Linked DNA regions of Homo sapiens: regions 2 and 3 are each reported to be linked to region 1. The links are microRNA targets in miRTarBase. Many come from high-throughput screens and were not tested one by one. Region 1 holds a microRNA gene; each other region holds the end of a gene's coding sequence.
The links. Region 1 holds the annotated microRNA hsa-miR-454-3p (UAGUGCAAUAUUGCUUAUAGGGU, at 1,032-1,054, opposite strand). A microRNA usually pairs through its seed, bases 2 to 8, with sites in the 3' UTR of a target mRNA and lowers its output. Matches are read on the target gene's strand: a 7mer-m8 pairs with bases 2 to 8, a 7mer-A1 pairs with bases 2 to 7 and ends in A, and an 8mer does both.

Region 1 (3,000 bases):
CCAGGCTCGTCTTGATCTCCTGACCTTGTGATCCGCCCTCCTCGGCCTCCAAAAATGCTGGGATTACAGGTGTGAGCTACCACGCCCAGCCGAAAAATCATCTTAAATGTCTGCTCTGAACCCTTCATTTTATAAATGAGAAAATAGCAAAGTAACTTGCCTCTAGTTCTATTTCCATTACTGTTTTCTTATGTAGTTAGACAAAGTTATAGATGATATTTAAGCCATTAAGAGTCACACATGTGGAAAAAATGTAAATTCTTTTTTTTCTTTTTGAGACAGGGTCTTGCTTTGTTGCCCAGGCGAGTGCAGTGGCACAAATCACAGCTCACTGCAGCCTCAACCTCCTGGACTCAAGAGATTTGATTCTCCTGCCTAAGCCTCCTGAGTAGCTGGGACTACAGACGTGCACTACCAAACCCAGCTAATTTTTGTATTTTTTTGTAGAGACAAGGTCTCGCTATGTTACCCAGGCTGGACTTGAACTCCTGAGCTCAAACAATCTTCCCGCCTTAGCCTCTCAAAGTGCTGGAACTACAGGTGTCAGCCACCACACCCATCCAAAAATGTACATTCTTCACCTAAAATTAAAGTTTTTTTATGTTTTAAATTAATATCACTAAAGTTACAAAGCTAGTCAACTAAAAATTCCCTCTGAACACAACATGGTAGTATGGTACAGAAAAATAAAAGAATTCGGATACATGGTAGAAATTCTAGTCCTAGTATCACTAACCAGCTATGTGTCCCTAGGTTAAGTCCCTCATTTCTTTGGGTCTCTCCTATCAAATGAGTTGGAATCTAAGATCCTTTTCAATACTAAAATTCCATTATTTCTTTATACTACAAATAAACCCATTTGTCAAAAAGAAAAGTTACCTTCTTCTAATAAATTAAAAATTTACATTTAAGCCTCAGATTTTAATGTTTATAGTGAAATCTAGTTCCTTGTTTTCTTCCTAAAGATGACTTTTGCTTGTTTCTGCTACATACTTTCTGCAGCCTGCCCATTGTTCTTTCCAAACACCAAAACCCTATAAGCAATATTGCACTACTCAGAACTATTTACACAGCAGAGACAATATTGATAGGGTTCTAGGATCTGGTGATAAACAGAATTTTTTTTAGTTAGATGGCAGAAATTCACTAAGCAATTATGATAATCTAAAACTCATTAGTGTCTGATAAATCGCGCAAATTTGATTCTGATAAACATCATTCACAGCCCTTTCAGTTACAAATCAGCCTCCTGGAAGCCTTGGAAATCAGTGAGGTTATTGTTTAACTTTTTAGGGGCAATGGAATATTTAAAATAAAACTAGTGATTTTTGTAAAGCCCAAGATATTCGTATTTCAGAAACCAGTTTTCTCTAAAATCAGTAATAAAAATAAAGGGGAAAAGTTTTATACTGATCTGAAAAGTGGTATATAAAATACAAAATTAGGTGAAAAAAGTCTATGGAAATCATCATGAAAGCACCCCAAGGGAAACCAGGTTACATTCTGCCAGTTAGATTTCTGATTTTTTCCTCCTATTTTGGAATATTTGCATAATAATTACTGGTTGAGCATCCCTAATCTGAAAATTCAAAATCTGAAATGGTCCAATGAATTTTGGATTTTGGAGCATTTCAGATTTTGGAATTTTGGATTAGGGATGCTCAACCAGTTGTTTTGTTTGTTTGTTATTTTTTGAGACAGCGTCTCACTCTGTTGCCTAGGCTGGAGGGCAGTGGCGCAATCTCAGCTCACTGCAACCTCTGCCTCCAGGCTCAAGCAATTCTCATGCCTCAGCCTCCCGACTAGCTGGGACTACAGGCACACGCCACAACGCCTAGTAAATTTTTTGTATTTTTGGTAGAGATGGGGTTTCACCATTTTGCCCAGACTAGTCTTGACCTCCCGAGCTCAAGTGATCTGCCCGCCTCGGCCTCCTGAAGTGCTGGGATTACAGGCATGAGCCACCGCGCCCAGCCTGTTCTAGTCTAGTTTTCAATATGACCAGTTTAAGGCTTTAAGTAAGTGGCACAAGGTATTCCATACTACTCAACTATTAGGCAGCAAGGAGAAAAGAATATATTGCGGTTGTCACAATATACTGTGTGGTCCTCAGTTTTAAAACACTTGCTTTTTACAAACAACCCCTAGATTCTCATTGCCACCGTATGCTCTCCTACAAAGGACCAGTGCCCTTAAAGCTCTAAACACATCCTCTTATGAGAGACCTTATCTCAACAGCATTAAATTACATAAAGTGAAAAAAAGTATTTCAGTCTCACCTATGGTGGGCTAGGCATAGAGAAGAGTTGGTAGACAGGTGTGTTCTGGACTTACTAAACAGGCTTAGAAATGCATTTTCCGGCTGGGCGCAGTGGCTCACGCCTGTAATCCCAGCACTTTGGGAGGCTGAGGCGGGCGGAGCACGAGGTCAGGAGATTGAGACCATCCTGGCTAACACGGTGAAACCCCGTCTCTACTAAAAATTCAAAAAATTAGCTGGGCATGGTGGTGGATGCCTATAGTTCCAGATACTCGGGAGGCTGGAGCAGGAGAATGGCATAAACCTGGGAGGCAGAGGTTGCAGAGAGCCGAGATGGCGCCACTGCACTCCAGCCTGGGCAACAGAGCAAGACTCCGTCTCAAAAAAAAAAAAAAAAAAAAAAGAAATGCATTTTCCATAGAAACATTTTAAGGGAGAATTAAGTATCTTAATGGAACTAGTTTGGCTATAATCAAAAAACCTACTTTTATTTTTATTTTTAAATTTTTTTTGTTTTTGAGATGAGTGCTCACTATGTTGCCCAGGCTAGTCTCGAAATCCTGAGCTCACGTAATCTGCCCGCCTTGGCCTCCCAAAGTGCTAGGATTACAGGTGTCAGCCACTGCACCCGGCCAGAATCTACTTTTTGTACATTTTCTTCTCTTCAATGTACATTTAGAAACACCTTTATCTACTCTCCTTTTACTTTGTTCATGGCTTTGGTTTACCATCTACTGTAT
Region 2 (3,352 bases), not on the chromosome of region 1:
AGTACATGCCTGTTGAAAGGTGGACACATGGGTGTATGTTCAACAAAAAGTAGATAGATAATGCCTTAAACATTGGATTGCATCTCTGTTAGGACAGTTCTCCACATTAGCACTCAAAGGGTATCATAGACTATCATAGATATATGGTTCTTTCATGATCATTCTCAAAAGCCCCATTTCAATCTGAAATTCAGATTGGGGATATTTTGGCACTGTTAACAGACAGAACTGGAACAAGACCCACCACACTCTCCTGACTCTTCCTTCAATAACCTTTCAATATTTCTCACTCTTTCTTTCTTTCTTTTTTTTTCCATTTCAGCTGAAATTCTGAACAGCAGAGTTATGGAGTATCAGAATCTTTCCATGGAAACCTCCATATGGCCTTTCTATATATATTCTCGTATGTCTTATTCTACCAACACAACAATAAGCGTGTTGCAGTCAATGTATTAAGCAAAGCAAACCTGCCAGCCAGCAAATTCAAATAAAAAATAAAGCATTAAAAATCAATGGAGATGTTAAAACAACACAAATAGAAAACTAGTAACTACCATCCATCCTATTTGAATTATCAAGCAGAACATGACCATAAAATTTGGTAACTTGTTACATTACTCTTTGTGATTTTCTAATAACCATGCTAAGTGTATTTCCACAGTGAGCTTTTGGCTTACTATATACATTCTTGGTGGATAAATTGTTCATCTGTTTTTGAAGTGTTACCTTACTATTTTGTTTACAAGATAGTCTATTGGGTTGATTCAGGATGTAACAAATATATTCAGTACCATTTCTTGTGTTGTATTGTGTTGTGCTGTGTTAGGTTTTTACATACTGTAGTGTTTTGCTGTATATGTGTGGTGTTTGATTTCAACTAAAGTGTTATTAGTGGGGAACAGAAGTATATGTGCTTAAGAACATGACAGGTTCATGCAAATATGCTCTCTTTCTTTAGAATATTTCTGTAGGTTTCTTGGGACTGACATTTAAAACGCCTCACTTTTGAATGTGCACAAAACCTGCTCATTAACATGCATGTGTATAATTTGTACCTGCAGATCTGATGTTGCATAATACAATCAAATTACTAGATTTTTTAAAGAGAGAAATAATTACCTGCACAAAGCAGAGAACTTCATAAAACATTAACCCCTAATTCACTCTTCTTAAATAGCTTGGCAAATAAGACTTTACCTTTAAATGAATTTCTCAGCATTTATACTAAAAATTATGTAAAGTGCTCATTAGATTTTTTGTGTGTGTGGCTTGAGAATCCCATCTCCTAAATTGAGTGTCTAAAACTGAGCCATTTGTCATCTTCAGCTGAGAAACTGGTACTTGGGAGCTTAAAAATATGCTAATTACAAGTTATAAATCAAACGGAGAGATGGGGGCATGGAGATAGTTTTTACGTACTGGAGGAAAGTGTGTAAAACCATGGCAATGTCACCTTTTACACAAATGCCATTTTCCAAATGCAAATGGCTCATGCTCTTTAGACTACTCTTTGAATAACAAGTAAGATGCAATCTAGCAAAAGTCAGTCAGGGTGAAAGAGAATTGGTTGCAAATGAGGACTTCCCTCCCCAAATGGACAGTCTTCTCTGTTGATCACAGAGGGAGCCTGAGTACAGGCTTGGAGAAATGGCTAGGACAGGGAACAGGGAAGCACTTACAATTATTCCTTGATTTATTCAAAAGAACTGGGAAAGATGGTTGTAGTTGTCTTTAGCTTCGGTTCAACTGAGTTTCGTTTTGTTAAACAGTTCAGTGAAGGAGAAAGCACCTGTGATATATGGCAAGTGTCCCCCTGCCCAAACTTTAACATCAGACCCTCTCACATCATAACCAAGCCTCTTTTATGCTTGTTTGGATTCGTTTGCCTTTATATATGTTTGAAAATGACAATAGAAAGGGTTTTATCACCCTTTGAATGAGACAGAGTGGCTATACTCCACAGAGCTCAGCTGAGTTCACATTACTAATATTTATGAAAGAATTTTACAACCAAATAATTCCTGTGGTGTGTGACATATCTCATCCACTCTACTCATTTATTAATGTTATTATACAGTGGTGGAAACACATGACATTTTACATCAAGTAATAGATTTAATATTTTCTAGTAAATAGGCGCTCTTCCACCAGAAAGTATAAAACCATCATATACATATATATATATATATATAATGGTTTTTCTCCTTCATGAAAATGACAAGTAAAAAGCAAATCTGATTGAGGATACCTTAAGCTGGCTAGAAGTGTTTGAATCACAGAACAATGGAATTAGCAAAATCCTTTTTATAGTTGATGGAACTGAATCCAGGGGCATATGACTTGCCCAAGGCTACCTTAGCCATTGTGGGACCCAGAAATATCTCCTGCTTCCCATTGTTCCTCCTTTTCACATTGTTTTTGCTTCAGAACATTTGATGCTCTCTTCCAAAGCAGACCCATTTGGCTCAGAATATAAGAGAGCAAAATTAGCTTTCTGGGAATTGATACTCTGTTGATCTTAATTATCCATCCAAATCCTGATCAACAGTGCTTTCTAAACAGCCTTGCTTGTATTGAGTCATTGTCAGCTGTTGACAATGTTGCGTGGAATTAGAGATCAAGAGTTGTCCTGACCTTTACCTATGGACTCTTTGAACCAGTTAATTTCTATTTCTGAAATCTTAACATTGCTATAGAAGAAAGTAGTGTATGCCTTTTTGAAATTCATCATGTATGGAACTGAGTTTTGTATGATCCGTGCCAGTGCCTCTCCAGAAGGGCAGATCTGATTACATGAATCCAGGAGGGATGCACCTGAGCTAGTCTGGATATATTCCTTAAAGGAGACAAGAACTTTTTTGTGCAAAATGAACTTTTGTGTAGTTTGACATCTGCATGCAGTGAACTGTCTCACTTAACTTTTTCAACTTTGGGCAAAGATATACATAAACCATAGATAATAGACCTACAGTACAGCTGTTTTCATGTTGCGTTAAGCACTGGAAGACATTAACAATGACTTACCTTAAAGTAAAAGGTTCCGTGAGGGGTATTTAGGGCCACTGTATTTTTGGTGCCACAATTTTCTACATTGTTGGCATTTTAAAAGTTGTTTTCTAAATGAACTTAAAGAAAGAAAGCTCAAAGCCCTAAAGTTTTGATCAAATTCAATAGAGTTTTCAGAAAAAAATACAATTTTAAGATAGCACTCTTTAAACTAGATGTGCAATGACTTATTCAAATTATCTTTATTCAAGAAAAGAGAAAAGAAGAAAGATAAGTCATTAGACTATAAATTTCCATTTAAAAAGACAAGTCACAAAACTAATCAGTGACTCTAAACAAAAATTTA
Region 3 (3,352 bases), not on the chromosome of region 1:
CTGCACTCCAGCCTAGGTGACAGAGTGAGACTCTGTCTAAAAAAAAAAAAAAAAAAAAAAAAAGATCTGGAAGTTATCCTGAGGACAGTTATCCTGAAGCTGCTGAGGGATTTCAAGTAAGAGAGTGCTATCGCCAAACTTACGTTTTAGAGCTGTCACTCACTGTTGACTGTGCTGTGTGCAGAGGCGAAACTGAGGGAGGAGAAACCAAATTGGGAGGCCACTGTGAGAGATAATGGTGGCCAGGACTCAGGTGGTGATAATGGGAAACGCAGAGAAGTAGGTAGAGCCGAGAGATATTTAGATATTTAGGACAAAACTGGTTTCAGAGTGGATGTGTTTGGGGAGTGAGGTAGAGAGAGAGACCTGGGTGATTTCCAGGTTTCTGGCCTGTGCAGCACATGGATGGGAGTAACATTGCCAAGAAAGTGACCTCTGTAAGATGAGCAGGCTGAAGGGGAAGGAGCCACTCTTTCCTCCTCCCTTTTAACAAATCAGCACTCCCGGTGTCTGGCATGGGGTTTGTGAGTTTGGAGTGCTTGAGACGTGCCCGTGGTCTGGTCTAGCGATTGTATGTGTGATAAGCTTGGGATTCGGGCACACCTGGGTTTCAATCTGTGCCCCACTACTTAAAGGTACGGTTTCAGACTCATCACTGAAATTCCCAGGGCCTTGGTTTCTTCAGATGGTAGTAGCCCCACCTCATAGGGCTGTTATGAGGATTAATGAGGAAGGGCCTGTAAGGCTCAGCACCCAGGGCCACACTGTGGCTGGCTGGAAGCAGGCAGGCTGGAGGTCTGTGAGCTTATCAGCCACACACAGGTGGAGGCAGCCGAAGCTGAGGGGGAAATTAGCACATCTAGGGGTGAGGGTGAGGGTGAGGGGGGCAGAGAGTGAGGATGGGTGTGTGGGAGGGTGTGAGGGAAGAGGGAGGAAGCACAGAGCCTGGTGAGAGAGGTGGGGAGGTCAGGGATTAGGAGTTGGGGACTCGTGGGTTTTTCTGCCAAGCCCACCACCATGTGCTGAAATGCCCAGGTGGGTCTAGATTGTGGGATCAGTTGAATGAAAGACTTCTTTTCCCTGCTGCAGCTACTCAGCTGCTCATTTATTCATTCATACCCATTCACTCACTCATTCACACCCAGGGCCAGGGAGCTCCATCTGGTGGGGAGCCGTGGATACATGGCCACAGCTCAGGGTCGTAACTGCAACTAGAGATGTGTCCCAGGGCAGTTTGGGAGCTGGGGGCACTGATCCAGGAGGGGTAGGGAGGGGTCCAGGAAAACTTCCTGTTGGCCAGGAAGATGAAGAGGGTGGGGAGGCAAAGGTGTTTCCGGGCAAGGGCCCAAATTACAGCATGGGTGCCCAGAGGTAATGAAGGGGGGTTGGAGGTGGAGGGCACAATGGAGAGTGGGCCTGCTGCCCAACTCATATGGCTGGGGAGGCTGCTGTCTGAACCTGGGTGGCCCTGGAGACCTTGTCAGGAAGAGGAGACTTTACTCTGGAGCAGGAGGGAGTCACAGATGGCCCTAAACCAGAGAGGGGCATATACTATCTTTAAAGTGACCCCCCCGCCAAGCTGCAGCATGGAGGGGAGGTTGGAGGGAGCTGGCCAGGGCAGGGCTGTTGCAGGAGTTCAGGAGGGAGGCCCTGTGCAAGCTTAGTGCTGGAAAGGGGCATGAAACAGGCCAAGTTGATTCAGGAACTGACTAGGGGGAAGGTGCTGAGTCTGCAGGTGGTTCTGCCTGCCTGCTGGTTGAGGAATATTCCTGTTTGAGTCAGTGCTCACTGTTTTAAAGTCTTAATTTGAAAAACATCCTTGAGGTCAAGCTGAACTGAAACTGGCCTCCCAGGGGTCCTGGGACAGTACTGTAGAACACAGTATCCACACCCTGTACTGTCCACGAACCCTCCCGCTGGGACCCCTTCCCACATCCCCGAGCCCCCACCCCCGGTTCTTTCAAGCACTCTGCCAACATCCCAGACCTCACTTCTGCCCCAGGACCTTTCCCTCGACTGGGTCAATCTTCCAGGGAACAGCCAGGCCGCCTCTGCCTCCCCAGGGCCCGGTTTTTCGTGTGGCAGGCCAGAGGGCAGCCAGCCACACAGAGCACACCCCCAAGGAACAGCCAACCCTCTGCGACAGCCGCACTTTATTTGGAGTTTTCCACCTAAGCAGCTCCCAGCTGAGCTGCATGACATGTGCAAAAGTCCCCTAGAAAGCTGGGCCTCGCAGTGTGTAAAAAAGGCCCCCCATGGGGCAGAGCCGTGCAACCATTTTAAAAAAAGAGACAGTGAGAGAGAAATCAGGCCCCCTGGGAGCCTGGCTTGGGTGGAGTGCACATCGCTCAGGCCGGTCCATGTGCCAGGCCACTCCTGCTGGTTCGGGGGCTGTTTTCTTCTCTGATTGTGCTTTCCTTTCCAAGTCCTTAAAACTCTGGGGTTGTAGCCACCAGAGAGACCAGACCAAGTCCTCGGGGTCAGGAGGGTATCTGGCCGGCGGTGCAGTTTGAGGGTGACCTCACACACAGACACCCACAACACAATGCTCCCCCACTGCTCAGCCCCGCCAGAAACTCAGGGCTTCCCTGGCCTCGCAGCCCTCGCCAGCCCCTTGTGTCCCAGCCTCTGCCCCTGAGCCTGGCCCCAGTCGGCCCTCATGTCACATTCCCAGGGAGGGACACTGTCCTGACACAGACAAGGTCCTCCAACCCCTGGGGCGCGGTGGGGTGGGGAGGCTGGGCCTTCACTTCACCCCCAAGGCAGGTGTTTGTAGTGTCTGATTCTGTGCGTGTCTGGGTGTGGCACATTTGTGTGTGTGTGTGTGTGTGTGTAATGTGTGTGTGGCTGGAGGTGGGGGCTGAGGCTGGGGAGGCACTTTTGGGATTCAAGGGACCTTGACTTTGAAGGGGCTTCCAGGGACACTTTCGTCACCCCACTTGACAATGAGGATGTAGTCCCCTTTCTCCTTGACAGTGTAGGTGACATTGTACACCCGGTTCCCCATGTGCTTCACGTACACCTCCTCACAGGGGGTCTTGGGGCCGTGCACGCCCACCATCATCATGTTGGTGCCTGGAGAGGGAGGCAGAGGGACAGGCTCACACCAGGGAGTCCCCTACTGTGACCCACACCCTGCTCCCTGACGGCTTCTTGCTCACACCCCGGGAGACGCCCTCCCCCCGCCACCTGCCTGCTTTGCTGCAGTCCACGGTGAAGGAGTTCTTCTGGCCCACGAAGGCCTGGGACAGCCCAGGGCCCCGAGTCACCACCTTGCTGGCATCTGAGGAGAACTTGGGGATGGAGCTGTAGCTGGAGCCCCGGCTTGAGGAGGACTTGGTCACAGTCTCCA

Region 2: the mRNA of MBNL3 is a reported target of hsa-miR-454-3p. The part of its 3' UTR that is shown has no 7-base or 8-base seed match.
Region 3: miRTarBase lists FLNC as a target of hsa-miR-454-3p. The part of its 3' UTR that is shown has no 7-base or 8-base seed match.

Annotation. Positions count from the first base shown.
Region 1 is chr17:59,136,756-59,139,755 of GRCh38, forward strand. MIR454 (microRNA 454) reads right to left here and starts at 1,117; the gene lies at 1,003-1,117. The region is part of intron 1 of SKA2 (spindle and kinetochore associated complex subunit 2); the gene reads right to left.
Region 2 is chrX:132,376,648-132,379,999 of GRCh38, reverse strand. It overlaps MBNL3 (muscleblind like splicing regulator 3), which reads left to right. Exons shown (of 9, transcript NM_001386889.1): 9 at 323-3,352. The coding sequence ends at 334. All of the region lies in intron 2 of RAP2C-AS1 (RAP2C antisense RNA 1), which reads right to left. Among named protein-coding and RNA genes, the nearest start is that of MBNL3, 110 kb to the left of the region's middle.
Region 3 is chr7:128,858,059-128,861,410 of GRCh38, reverse strand. It overlaps FLNC (filamin C), which reads right to left. Exons shown (of 48, transcript NM_001458.5): 47 at 3,194-3,352; 48 at 2,139-3,075. The coding sequence ends at 2,888. The region is part of intron 1 of FLNC-AS1 (FLNC antisense RNA 1); the gene reads left to right. Among named protein-coding and RNA genes, the nearest start is that of FLNC-AS1, 2.9 kb to the left of the region's middle. RefSeq lists an enhancer at 2,718-3,218.